4 linked regions of the Homo sapiens genome follow. The protein of the gene in region 4 interacts with the protein of the main gene of each other region in a pairwise test. Each region holds a gene or a part of one and is shown on either strand. Other genes may lie near its edges. The genes, in order: CYLC2, MSANTD3, LRSAM1 and MUTYH.

Region 1 (4,236 bases), on a different chromosome or scaffold from region 4:
AGTAATTAAGGCCTCATATTTACCAAGATTAAATGGCATGTAGAAGCTAAAATTCCACCTTCACTTCAAGCTTATATATTCAGTCACTTCAAAATCATTTTCAGTAACTGTGCATGTTCTGAGGTAAAGGTTTCCCATTGTCAACAATGTAGAATATAATGTATTTGAAACTTTGAAAAGAAAACTAGGATTAAGTTTTCTGAAATAAAAAGTAGAGAAGCAAGAGACATGGGGGACTTTATTTCTTAAGAGAAAAATCTATTTCTATTCTATCACCATAAAAAATTTTTTTCAGGGGTAAACCTTTAACCAAGTTTGTTTTTCTGATTATTTTTCCTTTTAGTCTGGGTTATATTTTAATCTAAATACAAAATCCACCCATCTTTCCTCTTGCCTGTAACTGTATCTCTGCTTAGATGTGTTTTAAAAATATATAGTGGATTCAAAGTCAAAGGATTTAAATGATATATCTTCCCAAGTTACATGTGAGTTGTTCATAGACCTCCTGATTGTATGCATATTGCCAGATATCTTGCTAGTAGACTAGATTTTTGGAATCTGCATCAGCTGCAGGGAAAAGAAGACCATAAAAGACATGGTAGAAAGTTTTCTAGGAACTGACTGCAGCCTGAGCTTCTCTTCTTGTATTTGCTAGAGGAGTCTCTGTGTAAAGGCAAGGTCAACTGCCCCAGGATTACTGTCTTGCTGAGGAATGGCTCTGTGTGTAGTAAGATTCTCTGTCTTTCTCTAGCATTTTCTGAAGCAGTGTTTCTTAGCATGGATTTATTTCGAACTCCTCACCCAGAGAATATTTTGCAATGTCTGAAGACATTTTCCTTGTCACAATTGTCTATGTGTATGTGCGTGTGATGATACTAGCATCTAGTTGGTAGAGACCAGGGATACTGTTAAAAATATTATAATGCATCTTACAATGGACAGAATGCTGGATCTCCCCTACCCCCAGCACCTACTAATCCTCTATTCCAACAAAAAGTTTTCTAGACTACGATGTGAGTGGTGCCAGGATTTATAAAACCTTGTCTACATCAAGGTGAATCCCTAGACCAGGATAGTAAGAGACGACTTTAGTAATGCTACTCAATAGAGAGAAAAACATAAAATATACATTAGATACGAGATTGGGAAGCTAATATTGGAATTTTAAATGTTCATATATTTAGATACCCTATCTCACACCAAATTTTTGTGATAACCTCTCCTACCTGTTTCAGAAATCTTAGTTCTATTCAACATTATAAATGGGCTGAGTTGACTAACACAACCTAAATTTGAGGCCAAGGCCAGAAGTGATGAAACTATTAAATGGTATAGTTGAGGTTTGGATAGAGCAAAGGTATTAGAGAAGGAATAAGTGGGAAAGGAAAAACTGAGTTCAAACAGAAAAATTTTCTTTATCACATACAAGTTGATAGCCATAGGCACAGAAATGTTAAGTCCAAAACTAAGGCTCTGCCATCCTTAGAAGAATTCAGTGAAAAGACAAATGGAGTCGAAAATTAATTTTCTGCATCTTAAATTTTGCGTGTTCAATGAATTGGGAGCTGTCACTTGAACTCAAAGAAATATGCTAATTTGTTATTAAGAATTTTTATGTATGCTTTTCTGGCTAATGGTGAGGCCATTTGATTATGATTTCTATCAGTTTCCTCCTACAAAAACCAGAATGTTTTGGGATTACACTAGAATAACACCATAAAAAATAGCCATAAGACCAAAAAGAGGTTTCTAACCATTGTGGTCAAGTTCTCTGAAAGCTATTTGATGCTCATGATAACAATAATACCATCGATATTTTACAGTGCTTATATATTTGAAAGTAATTAAAATACAGTGTAATTCTGCCATGTTAGGTGCCAGAACATAGATTTTTGCATAGTAGGCATCAATTTACTCAGCTTCTAAAGTAATCATGACAAATGCATTTAAACCTTTACCAAAAATTATACTTTAATGATTGTTTTATAACAAAATGGGCACCAGTATCTATGGAAAGCCTATTTTATTTTTAATATTCATGTTTTATCTTTCCTTTAACAATACTGCTAAATTAAGGCCCACCCATACTTTATATTACAAAACTCCATTCCTTCACCTTTGTTGCATGTCCTCTGTAAAAGGGTTTACAGAATTGAAACGTGCTCTTTACCTACCTTATTTTGACACAGAATAAATTAAGCATAAGTAAACTACTGTCATATAACTTCTCATGTCTGGATTATATGCTTTACATTACAAAGTACTTCCACATACTCAATATTTTGCAAGAGGGATACCACTAGTATTCAGTTGGTCACATTTGGATAGAGCTGCCCCACTTTTTACTAAAGGTTAACACTGCGATATAATGCCTCCTCTAAAATTCAGTCACACTCCTCAGTCACTATTACATACACAAAAAATATTCACAGAAATTTCCAAGGTGGTTCCCTGACTGAAAATCATGAATTATTTTATTTTATATTACTCAAAATGCAATGTGATAAAAAAATCAAGTAAGACTAGCAGTAAAAAAACAAACAAAAAAGACTTATCCAAAGCCAGGTATCTATTTTACTGAAATGCATGCACTAGCTATGTCTTAAATCAAAAAAATCTATTATGTTGCTTGAGAATCTTTGTCTGCTTAAACACATTATCTTTTGCTTATGAATGGCATCATAATAATATAATAAATATCTCTTCATACTAAAGAAGTTAAATGTAAAGCTAACGAGTATTTCAGTTATTTTAAAACATAAAATTTGACTTACAATCTTGGGAGAGACATTTTCCCCACTTATGACTTGCCAGGACTTAAGTATTGTAAGTTCAAACTGGTGATGTTGAAAGGTGACATCATAAAGAAGCCAAGAGCACTTGGAATTAAAGGGGTAAAACAAAAGGAGTCACTTGTGTTTTTATGTTCTCTAAAATTCTAAGATTAATATTTACTTTCACTTATTACTGACTAAATCTAGCTAGGAGTTTTAAAAGTAATCAATTGATTTTACACTTTAATAAAATATTTGTTTTATTTTTTTCATGTAATTGTAATTTATTGACTGATATGGAAAAAAGGTAAGTCTAAACATTTATCTGTGAGGATCAGCTGTAATCCTAAATTCCCTTTCATTCCTGTAACTTTTGTTAAATCAATGCATAACTTTACATGTCTTTCTCTCATCTTAAACGTATTGTTTTCTCATACATAGAATATTTTAAACAAAGCTATATGCTTTTTAAACTTATAAATATATGAGTTAGTACATTTTTATTAAACTCATAATCTTACCCCACTAATAAATGAATACTAGTACTATATAGAGAGGCATTTAAACATGTTGCTCTTATTTAGCTCTTTTTAAAATATCTTAGCTATTTTTTGTCTTAAGAAATAATTTTATTAAATATAAGCTTCTATAAGGGGTAAACTACAGAAATATTAGTAGTTTGACTCAAAGTTTCTAGCTGATCTTACACAATGATAAATTATAGAGGCATTGGAGCTGGGATGGGAGCCTTTCCATAATTTAGATTTCTGTGATCTGATTACTTCACTATCTGACTTAATGAGAATATCTACTGAAGTTTTCCTGAAAAGTGATAGTTTAATAAGTAAAGTATAATGTCTAATTCTATAATATTTTGTTGAGCATTTTATAGTCTATAGTGGCTTTTGAAAATATTAATCTCTAATGCATTGACTCTATCATCATACATTAAAATCTAAATAATGACTGGGCAACAGGCAATACTTGCCTTCTGCATTATCATCTCTTTAATTAATCTCTTATTGTCATTCTTAATTAAATGTGTATGATCTAGTAATATCTTAGCCAATGATATTTTTATAATGAGCATGTGTCAGTCTTCTATTGCTACATAGCAAATTATTACAAATTGAAGACATAAAACAATACTCAATTTTTATCTCATAATTTTATAATTCAAAAGCTTAGGCAGGTTTAACTAGGTCCTCTGCTTAGGGTCTCACAAGACTGAAATCAAATTGTCAGCTGAACTGTGTCTTACCTGGAGACTCAAAGAAAGAATCAGTGCCTAAGCACATTTCAGCTGGTGGAATTTAAGTCCTTGTGGCAGTAATTCTGATATCTCTGTTTTCTTCCTTGCTGTCAGCTATGAGCTGCTTTCTGTGCTTAGAAACTGCCTAAGTTCCTTCTCAAATACATCCCCCTACATCTTCAAACCTGAAATATTTCATGGAGTCCTCAT
Region 2 (3,589 bases), on a different chromosome or scaffold from region 4:
TCTGTAATCACAGAACTTTGGGCCTAAGGCAGGAGGATTGCTTGAGCCCAGGGGTTCAAGACCAGCCTAGGCAACAATGGGAGAACTCCATTGCTATAAAAATTAAAATTAAAAGTACTAGCCAGGCAAGGTGGCATGTGCCTATAGCCCCAGCTACTAGGGTGGCTAAGACAGGAGAATCCCTTGAGCCCAGGAGGTTGAGGTTGCAGTGAGATATGATCATGCCACTGCATGCCAGCCAGGGTGACAGAGCAAGACCCTGTCTCCAAGAAAAAAAAGGTAGTATAATATAGAGGTTAAGGACATGGGCTTGGACCCATGGCCTCAAAGCCCAACCCTACCACTGCTTCTGAGAGTGGAGCTTTAGAAAAAGAAAAAATATAAATAAATTTAAAGAAGGACCTCAATCTAATCCTCTTACTTTACAGTTGAGGAAACTGAGGCTCAGAGCAAAACAGGGCTTCCCAAGGCCCTAGTAACAGAGAAGAGTCTGAAATCAAGGCTTCATCATTTGCTTTCCAACCCCTCTCCCACTTCAGAACCCCCTCACCATCAAGATGCCCTTTTTGCTAGGTACTCTCAAGCCTCCCCGACTGTACCATTTGAAAACTCCAGGGCACTGCTCTCAACTCTGTCATTCATTTTGTGACATTTGTCTTGGCACGTCTTCTTTACTTGCTGTCAATTCCTCGTCTCTAAATTATAAAGCTCAAGGGGGTATTCTCTAAAGTCCTATCCAGTACTGGTCATCCATGTTAGCACTGCCATTAAAATGGTTTTTCTGCAATCTAATTTCCACAGTTCACTGCCAAAGACACATAGTTGGTATTTTCTGATTATTTATGAGACTGGTGGAGCTACTGGCCAATGAAAGAGAGCATTACAGCAGAATGAAGTGATCTCAGCACTTTAGATGACCTTGTTATTTTGCTTAAGGCCTTTAAACAGGTTTAACTGTGCAAGTTAAGCAGTTCCAGGTGAAATGGCAAAAGCAGGTGATCTGATCTGTTCACTATGGCTCCTTGAAGAGTGCCTGGTGTACATCAAGCACTCAATAAATATTTGTGGAATTACCTGCCATAACCAACCTGCTTGCCATTTGCATTTTTTAACTGATTATTGCTAGATGTTTTATTATTTTAAATTTCTCCTCTTACAAAGGATTTATCATAATATAATCGTTTCCTTCTTGCAAACATCATTACAGTTCAAAGAAGGTAGAAATGGCAATGTTTTAAGAGCCTCACAACCACTATGATGCCTTCAGGATTTCATTTTATCCAGAGGTGAGAGTAATTGGACAGTACTCTTACCTGCCTGCACATGTACATACCTGTGTGCCCAGGATGGCCACTCACCCAAGCTCTCTCTGCCTCTCTACCTTCTTTCTTTCCTTTTCGAGAGCTTTCCAGTCAAGCCTAGCACCGAACTTGCTTTCTCTAATGCATTCCCTCTCTACCACTTTTCCACCCACTCCAGGCAGCCATGTAACTTGGAAGTGTTTATTTTCATCATCTGCGCCTGAGTGTGACTGTGTGCATGCAGAACCAGCCTTGTGTTGAAAGCCAGGTCTCCCCCACTTTCCCATCCTCACAGTCCCCTCTATAAACCAGATGAGAGTTCTTAAAGTCCTAACCCCGTCCTTCCCCTTCCCCACACTCCATCTTAAACCATCCCCACCCACGGCTTCCCTGAAATGCCTTTGGAATCATTATTAAGGTATCTTCCACAGAAAGCAGTGTTGAAAAACAGAAGGTCCCCTTCTGTAGGTGTTCCCACTCCAGCCTCCTTCTCGTCTACTGAATACACTCTCCTCCACTCCCACCACCTCAGCTACAACCATCGGCTCTCAAATCTTCTCTAGGACAAGGGTACCAAGTATTTACCTCTTGCAGCACTCAGAATTACTCTGCACTGAGATCTATCCATATCCTGAAGGCTCTCCCTATCTGACGGTGAGCTCCGAGGCATGGAACTACATTTTATATCTATCTTCAGCACATAGTAGATTCACAGTAAGTGTTTGTTTTAAAAAAAAAGTTGGGAGTGGGGACGCAGGCACAGTGGCTCACACCTGTAATCCCAGCACTTTGGAAGGCAGTGGGGGAGTACTGCTTGATGCCAGAAGTTTGAGACCAGCCTGGGCAACACAGTGATACTCCATCTCTAAAAATAAAAATTAAAAAATTAGCCAGGCATGAGCATCTGTAATCCCAGCTACTTGGGAGGCTGAAGTGGGAGGACCACCTGAGCCCAGGAATCTGAGGTTGCAGTGAACAATGATTGCACCACTGCACTCCAACCTAGGTGAAAGAGTAAAACGCTGTCTCTTTAAAAAAAAAAAAAAAAAAAGGCTAGGCATGGTGGCTCACGCCTGTAATCCCAGCACTTTGGGAGGCCGAGGTGGGAGGAGCACCTGAGGTCGGGAGTTCGAGACCAGCCTGACCAACATGGAAAAACCCCGTCTCTACTAAAAATACAAAATTAGCCAGGTATCATGGTGCATGCCTGTAATCCCAGCTATTCAGGAGGCTGAGGCAGGAGAATTGCTTGAACCCGGGAGGTGGAAGTTGCGGTGAGCCGAGATTGCGCCGTTGCACTCCAGCCTGGGCAACAAGAGCAAAACTCCATCTCAAAAACAAAAAAAAAAAGAAAAAAAGAAAAAGAATAAAGTGGCAGTGATGGAAGAACCTCTCTTCCAAGCCTCAACCTCTCTCCTTAGCATCAAACACATTTCCAATTATCTATCAGCCACCTCTGTGCCCCACTATGGGTACCTCAGAAAACTCCAACTCTCCATAGCCAAAACCAAACTAATTATTCCCCATACACCAAAATCTCCTGATTTCTGATGATGTCAGCCACATCAACTTGGCTTCCCAAAGCAGAAATGTAATCTTCAATCACATGCAACTAATTAACAAGACCTATGGTACATTTTACCCAAACATCTGTTCCCTCCTCTCCCATTCTCACTGCCCATGTCTGTGGACAGAGCTAATCTCTAAAATGGTCTCCCAAACTTCCATACCCTCTTCCACACAACTACAGGGATCTTCCTAAAACACAGTGATCAAGCCACAGGCCTCCTTGTAAACCTCAGACGTCTCTCCCACTGCCTAAACGATAAAAGTCCCAACTCTTCACATGGCATTCATGGCCTTTCCGGATCTGGTCCTGATTATAGCACCCCCACCAGCCCCTCATTCTCTCCATGTATTTTCAACCTAACCAGACCAAACTCAACACGCGGCTTCCTTTGGCTGGAATCCTTTACCCCAAGGCCACCAAGGGCCCATTTTCAATCTCTCTTTTTTTTTTTTTTTTTTGACACAGAGTCTCACTCCCAAAGTGCTGGCATTACAAGCGTGAGCCACCGCGCCCGGCCCATTTTCAATCTTCAAAGCCCAACTCTCATGCAATTTTTGTTAAGCCTTCCTCAATTAATACCCAGTCTGTTATGTTTATTTTCTTTATAACGGCTTCCTTCTAAAATGGGTTTGAAGCAGCTTACAAATTACACACACACTGCAACTAGATTTTTTTTTTTTTTTTTTTGAGAGAGAGAGGAGAGACTAGCAGGGCAAAG
Region 3 (3,500 bases), on a different chromosome or scaffold from region 4:
TTTTTGGGAAGGTAAGTTGGCACCTAGCAAAATGTCCTTTAAATATTTCCTTCACAAATAGTCACATGGCCGGGTGCGGTGGCTCACACCTGTAATCCCAGCACTTTGGGAGCCTGAGGCAGGCGGATGACTTGAGGTCAGGAGTTTGAGACCAGCCTGGCCAACATGGTGAAACTCCATCTCTACTAAAAATACAAAAATCAGCCGGACCTGGTGGTATGCGCCTATAATCCCAGCTACTCGGGATGCTGAGGCAGGAGAATCGCCTGAACCTGGGAGGTGGAGGTTGCAGTGAGCCGAGATCGTGCCACTGCACTCCAGCCTGGGTGACAGAGTGAGACTCCGTCTCAAAAAAAAAAAAAAAAAAAAGATATACTAAAAATTCTGCTATAAATATAGCCTGTCACTTTTTCCATTAGCAATATGTTATGTTTTCCCTTAATGAGAAATATTATTCAATAAGACATTTAATGGCTGCAGGTTATTCCTCCATACATAATTTATGTAACTAAATAATTTTTCTTTCCAGAAATTTAGATTTTTTTTCTGAATTTCTTTTTTTTTTTAGCTGGAACCATAGGCGCCTGCCACCACTCCTGGCTAAGTTTTGATTTTTAGTAGAGACAGCGTTTTGCCATGTTGGCCAGGATGGTCTCAAACTCCTGACCTCAAGTGATCTGCCCACCTCGGCCTCCCAAAGTGCTGGGATTACAGATGTGAGCCACTGCGCCTGGCCTGAACTTTTTATACTAGGAATATAGTTGGACATTATATATCTAGCCTTATTCATGTCTCTGAATGTTTTTCAGGAGTGTACGTATGTTTTAATGAACTTGAAGACAATGATTCTTTGTAATTAAATATCGTCTAAGGAGGTGAATCTCCTTATAGCTTTAGGGAAATGTCCTGGCATAATCCTCTGGAGAATCACAAGACATTCTCCCCTCAAAGCTGCTCTCCTTGGCCGGGAGCAGTGGCTCACGCCTGCAATCCCAGTACTTTGTGAGGCCGAGGCGGGCAGATCATGAGGTCAGGAGATCGAAACCATCCTGGTTAACACGGTGAAACCCCGTCTCTACTAAAATACAAAAAATTAGCTGGTGGTGGTATGCGCCTATAGTCCCAGCTACTCGGGAGGCTGAGGCAGGGGAATTGCTTGGACCTGGGCGGCGGGGGTTGCACTGAGCCGAGATTGTGCCACTGCACTCCAGCCTGGCGACAGTGCAGGACTCCGTCTCAAAAAAAAAAAAAAAATGCTGCCCTCCCCTGGAAGAACACTTACCTTTCATTTTCCAGCGATTTCAAAATCTCGGAGCTTTTCTTTTGTCTGTGGAGAAAATCATAAAAGGTCCTGGCAGTCACCAGCAGGCCTGTTTCCTGTCTCACTGCGTTAGCTGTGCAGAGGGGCTTAGGAAATGGGCTGGGGGCACCTTGGCTCCACCACCTTGAAGCTCTGGGTTCTTAGCCAGTTACTGAAACCACTCAAGTCCCAGGTTTCCTCACCTATGAAATTAGAAGAATAAAAAAACCCAGCCAGACACAGTGGCTCACATCTGTAATCCCAGCACTTTGGGAGGCTGAAGTGGATAGATCACTTGAGGTCAGGAGTTCGAGACCAGCCTGGTCAACATGGAGAAACCTTATCTCTACAAAAATTAGCCAGGCGTGGTGGCCCAAGCCTGTAGTCCCAGCTCCTTGGGAGGCTGAGGCAAGAGAATTGCTTGAACCTGGGAGAAGGAGGTTGCAGTGAGCCGAGAGCACACCACTGCACTCCAGCCTCAGTGACACAGCGAGACTCTGTCTCAAACAAAACAAAATGAAAACAACCCAGCTTCTTGGTGCATTTGTAAAGACTTAATGAAGAAATAGATGTAACAAGCTTGGCACATAAGAAGCATCCAACAAATGACTGGTTTCCTGAACTCATGCAGGTACTTTTGAAACTGACAGGTGAGGGAGGAACGAGTGATTCAGGGTTAGAAAAAAGAGGCCTGGAAGTGGCAGGGCATATGGCTGGAGCCTGTTTCTGGAATCATCCTGCAATGGGCCCCCTCACTAGACTTCTCAGGCTTTTCTGGCGCCATGTCTCCCCAGCCCCATCAAGATCTGCTCTTACTAGCTCGTACCTTGCACAGGGTTTGTTAAGGCAAATCTCACTACAGGTGAACAGCTGACCTCAGTGCAACGGGTTACGCAGAACCCAAAATACTGGAGCAGGATGTGATCCCAACTATCTTGTCAAACCCACTCACTTTATAGATGGGAAGCTTGGGGCCCAGTGGGGAAACATTTGCCCGAGGCCACAGGTCCAATCTGGTAGCAGTCTCATGCTAAGAAACCAGACTTTGTAATGACTGGGTCAGATTCTTTTCTCTCTACGCTGGTGCCAGTTGAAGCACCCAGACTGGATCCTGACAAGGGAAGCCCGGGGCAGGGGCAGAGGCAGTGAGGGAGAAACACACTCCTCCCGGCTCCTCAGGGGACTGCACGGGGAAGGACTCTGGGGCTGGGGCCGAGGAGCAGAGCCCAACCTCTGATTGTCCTGCAGCAGCTTCTGGATCCGGCTGGAAATGTTCTGTTCCGTCTGCTTCAGCTGCTCCTGCAGCCGCTGCCGCTCTGCGTTGAGGTGGCGCTGGTGCTCACTCAGGCCCTGCTCCAGCCGGGACTGCTCCTGCAGCCGGAGGTAGGGGTCCTGAGCCCCTGGGACCCCCTCAGACGCCGTGAGGGGTACTGACTGGGGTTAGGAGGCTGGCTTTCCCACCCTGCCTTGCCAATCCTTTTTGTGTGACCTCCGGCCAGCTCCTCCCAGTAGGCTACAGTGTCCATCTGCACACGGGGAGGCTGGGCTGGGTGATCTGTAAGGGCCCTCCCAGGTGCTGGGGGACAGAAGGAAGTGACAGCTTCATCCCACTGCCTTTCCACATCCGAGGGACCTTGGCCCAAGCCAGGAGGCCACTGGCTGGGGGATGCAGCCAGGCTGGACCCTAGCAGGCGGCTCACAAACCTCCTTGACCGTCTGAAGGATCTCATCCTTCTGGCTGCTGCTCTGCTGAAGGAGCTGGGTGTGCTCCCGCTGCCCCAGTTCCAGGCGCCGTTCAAACTCGAGTTTCTCCAGCATCTTCTGTTCCTGCAAGACACAGATCCTGGTGACTGTCAGCACAGGCCCTGGGGGAGTTAGGACACAGAAGTCGGGAGAATCCACCCCTCAACACTGACAGGGCAGGCTCCAGGTCTTCATGCTGAGCAACCCCCACTCCCCTCCAGGGCCCAACTGTAAGAAAACAAGCTGTTCACAGGAAGAGGCTAGTGGTCTAGAGCCCGGTGCTGGGCTCAACCCCTCTGAGCCTCAGTCTCTGCACCTGTCCCATGGATGCTCTACCACCCACCTGAGGCATGTGAGGATGCAGCAGACTGCGTGTAAGAGGAAGGCATTACTGTGACCTCTAATTCTGAGCTGGGAAGAAGTCATTTTCTCAAATATTTTATGAGTTGAGTTGAGA
Region 4 (3,589 bases):
CGGAAGGCTGTGACTTCAGCTACGTCTCTGAATAGATGGTATGAGGAGACAGAGGCCTGCAATACCACCTCTTCCGGCTGCCTGGCCAGGCCTGCTGGGGCCCCAGGACACTCAGCAATCATCCCTGCACAGGCTGTGCATCAGGGTCTTGGGACACAGCAGCCTGTGGCAGTATGCTCCCACTTAGGGCTTCCCCCAACTAACCCCCTTAAGCTTTGGAGCTGGAGTCAGACCAGAGTTATGTAATTGTGTGTAGCTGTGGCTAAGTTTCTGGCCTTAATTTTCTCAGGGTGGTACTACTGGCTTGTCTCTGAGCCATAATGAAAACCTAATAGTTTTAGCCAGCTAGAATGTATACTGGTGCAGGACCTTCCTATTCACAAAACACTTTCAGGCTCATAAACTCATTTGGTCCCATGAAAGCCACATGAGGGAGGAAATGCTGAACTACTGCTCCATTTTACTGGTAAGAAAGCAGCCATTCAGAGCAATTGTCCCAATGTCACACAGCAATACAGTCAGAATTACACCCTCAGTGAGTCTCTTTTGTTTTGAGACAAGAGTCTGGCTCTGTTGCCCAGACTGAAATGCAGTTGCATTATCTTGACTCAGTGCAACTTCTGCCTTCCAGGCTCAAGCGATCCTGTCACCTCAGCTTCCCGAGTAGCTGGGACTACAGACGCTCACCACCACGCGAGCATAGAGAGGGGATTTCGCCATGTTACCCAAGCTGGTCTCAAACTCCTGGGCTCAAGGGATCCACCTGCCTCGGCCTCCCAAAGTGCTGGGATTACAGGTGTGAGCCACCGCACCTGGCCCTTAGTAAGTCTCTTAATGTCTTGATACGTATCACAATCCCTTCCCAGCCTGAATCTGCCTTTCATGGCCAATGAGCCTTGGGCCACAACCTAGTTCCTTACCATCACAGGCAGAAGGCTTGGCCTGACTGTTGTTCTTAGCATGCTTCTGCCTCCCTTCCTGGCTGGCTGCCTGCTTCCTGTGACCACTTCCCACGGCTGCTCGTGGCTTCCTCATGATGGCCTGAAACAAAAAGACCCAGCCAAAGCAGTCAGTCACAATGAGGCCAAATTTTGAGGCCTTCCAAGGGTGATAGCTATCTCCCTCTCATCCACCATTCACATGGGGTCCAGCTTCTCTCAAGCACTCTCAAGATGCTCACGGGTTTACTCTTGGCTGGCTGCAGCACTGAGATACAACTAGTATAGCTGAGCAAGTGGCCTCAAGGGGGCCGGCGTTACAGCCCTGGAGACATGCAAAGACTGTGAGGCCAGGGCTGGGATGGGTCAAGGATGAAAGCCTCCTGTTTGGGAGCATTTGTGTATCTCTGATGCTTACTGTGACTGTGTGTGTGGATAGGGGTTGTTTAGGTGTGTCTGGGAGAATGGGGGTAGGCGGTTTCTCTGCCTCTTAGAGATGTAGCATGGTTACACTGAAACAGCCTGTAGTAGTCATTAAGTCCAAAACCTTCATTTTATCCTAGAAGAAACCAAGGATCAGAGGGACAAAAGATCTGTCTGAGAACAGATGGCAAATCAGTGGGAGAACAGAGATTAGCTATTTTTATTCCTAATCTAGTAAACCATAGGTGGCTGACCATCAACAATGAGAAAATGTGCCTGGTTGATTTTCACTGCTCCCTAACTGTTATAATGGCCGCCTTTTCTCTAACAGCTAAAATTAGTTGATATTTTGTGAGTGCCTACTCTATGTCAGACCCCATGAAGAGCTTTACCGGATCTCTCAATCTCCTGGTGACTCTATGAGGTATGTACTAGTATCACCTCCACCTTAGTTATAAGGAAATTGAGGTTTATGGAGATTAAGCGACTTGTTCTTTCAAATCCACGACCAGCATTCTTATACTGTGATAAAATGCAGTCCCTGCTAAGCCTCTGTATCAAACTCTCCCCCCAAACCTTTGACTTTACCACCTCATTTTCATCAAAAGAGCTTGCCTCCTCCTTCAGAAAAAAAAAAACCAACTTCAAATCTACCTCCATTTGCACTGTCTTACCCTCCTCCTCTTCAGGGTCCTGCTCCTCCAATCCCGTCTAACTGTTGGAACTCAGAAACTAATACCCCAGGCCAGGCACGGTGGCTCATGCCTGTAATCCCAACACTGCGGGAGGCTAAGGCAGGCAGATCACTTGAGGCCAGGAGTTCGAGACCAGCCTGGCCAACATGGCGAAACCCCATCTCTACTAAAAATCCAAAAAAATTAGCCAGACGTGCTCGCTTGAACCCAGGAGGCAGAGCTTGCAGTGAGCTGAGATCATGCCACTGCACAGCCTGGGCAACAAAGACAGAGCAAGACTCTGTCTCAAAAAAAAAGAAAAGAAAAGAAACCAATACCCCAAAATATGGCCCTCTGACATGCTGAACTCAAGAAGCCGCAAGGTCTCTCTGATCCTTCCACCCCAGACTCTCCCAAAGCCAGGATAAAGTTGTTCTCTGGAACTCTTTATCTGCCTAAAGTCCAAACTCACTAAAAAGAATACTTGTTTTTTCTTCCCCTCCCAATAAGACTAACATGTAACCACACCTGAACAAACCCTTTCACAGGTATTGTGTACCTCAGGATCACTCAAATTCCAAAGAGAACTATTAACAAGTCAACCTCTGTCCCCATTCCATTCTCTCTAGTAATCCTTTATTGCCCTTCAACAGAATCTCCTTCTGGCCAAAGTTCGGTTTATTTAAAAACAAATAGAGCTGGACATGCTGGCTCAGGCCTGTAATCCCAGCACTTTGGGAGGCCAAGGCAGGAGGATTACTTGAGCCCAGGAGTTCGAGATTAGGCTTGCAACATAGCAAGACCCCGTCTCTACAAAAACAGAAAAACAGAATTTCTCTTCTACCCCTTGTCAGGCCTCTGAGCCCAAGCTAAGCCATCATATCCTCAGTAACCTGCACTTATACATCCAGATGGCCTGAAGCAACTGAAGATCTACAAAAGAAGTGAAAATAGCCTTAACTGATCACATTCCACCACTGTGATTTGTTTCTGCCCCACGCTAACTGATCAATGTACTTGGTAATCTCCCCCCCACCCTTAAGAAGGTTCTTTATAATCTCCCCACCCTTGAGAATGTACTTTGTGAGATCCACCCCCTGCCCCCAAAACATTGCTCTTAACTCCAATGCCTATCCCAAAACCTATAAGAACTAATGATAATTCCACCACCCTTTGCTGACTCCTTTTTTTCAGACTCAGCCTGTCTGCACCCAGGTGAAATAAACAGCCTTGTTGCTCAGACAAAGCCTGTTTGGTGGTCTCTTCACATGGACACACGTGAGACACCCCTCCCATAATCTGTTTTGCCAGATGGTATATAAACTCACGAACTCTGTAGGGAGATGGGTAATCACTTTATGGTTCTCCCAATGTGCATGTTAATAAATTTGTATGCCTTTTCTCCAGTTAACCTGCCTTTTGTGAGCTGATTTTTCAGCAGATCTTCAGAGGGCAAAGGGAAAGATTTTCCCCTTGGCTCGTAACACAATCAAATCCCACCCTCCTTCCCTTCATAGCCAAACTTCCTTCACCAAACCTGCTTACTTCCACATT

What was found.
Region 1: the proteins of MUTYH (region 4) and CYLC2 interact in a two-hybrid assay, tested with the Homo sapiens proteins (one large-scale study listed by BioGRID and IntAct).
Region 2: the proteins of MUTYH (region 4) and MSANTD3 interact in a two-hybrid assay, tested with the Homo sapiens proteins (one large-scale study listed by BioGRID and IntAct).
Region 3: the proteins of MUTYH (region 4) and LRSAM1 interact in a two-hybrid assay, tested with the Homo sapiens proteins (one large-scale study listed by IntAct).

The regions. Positions count from the first base shown.
Region 1 is NC_000009.12:102,993,936-102,998,171, reverse strand, and holds the start of CYLC2 (cylicin-2), read right to left. Parts: upstream 2,840-4,236; 5' UTR 2,792-2,839; coding exon 2,775-2,791; intron 1-2,774. UniProt on the Homo sapiens protein: Plays a role in the establishment of normal sperm morphology during spermatogenesis. It is required for acrosome attachment to the nuclear envelope, and proper manchette elongation and disassembly.
Region 2 is NC_000009.12:100,430,065-100,433,653, reverse strand, and holds part of MSANTD3 (myb/SANT-like DNA-binding domain-containing protein 3), read right to left. Parts: intron 1-3,589.
Region 3 is NC_000009.12:127,479,010-127,482,509, reverse strand, and holds part of LRSAM1 (E3 ubiquitin-protein ligase LRSAM1), read right to left. Parts: intron 3,128-3,500; coding exon 3,005-3,127; intron 2,672-3,004; coding exon 2,532-2,671; intron 1,328-2,531; coding exon 1,283-1,327; intron 1-1,282.
Region 4 is NC_000001.11:45,333,471-45,337,059, forward strand, and holds part of MUTYH (adenine DNA glycosylase), read right to left. Parts: intron 1,498-3,589; exon of another isoform or gene 1,357-1,497; intron 1,042-1,356; coding exon of another isoform or gene 1,036-1,041; coding exon 921-1,035; intron 164-920; exon of another isoform or gene 134-163; coding exon of another isoform or gene 92-133; coding exon 1-91. UniProt on the Homo sapiens protein: Involved in oxidative DNA damage repair. Initiates repair of A*oxoG to C*G by removing the inappropriately paired adenine base from the DNA backbone. Possesses both adenine and 2-OH-A DNA glycosylase activities.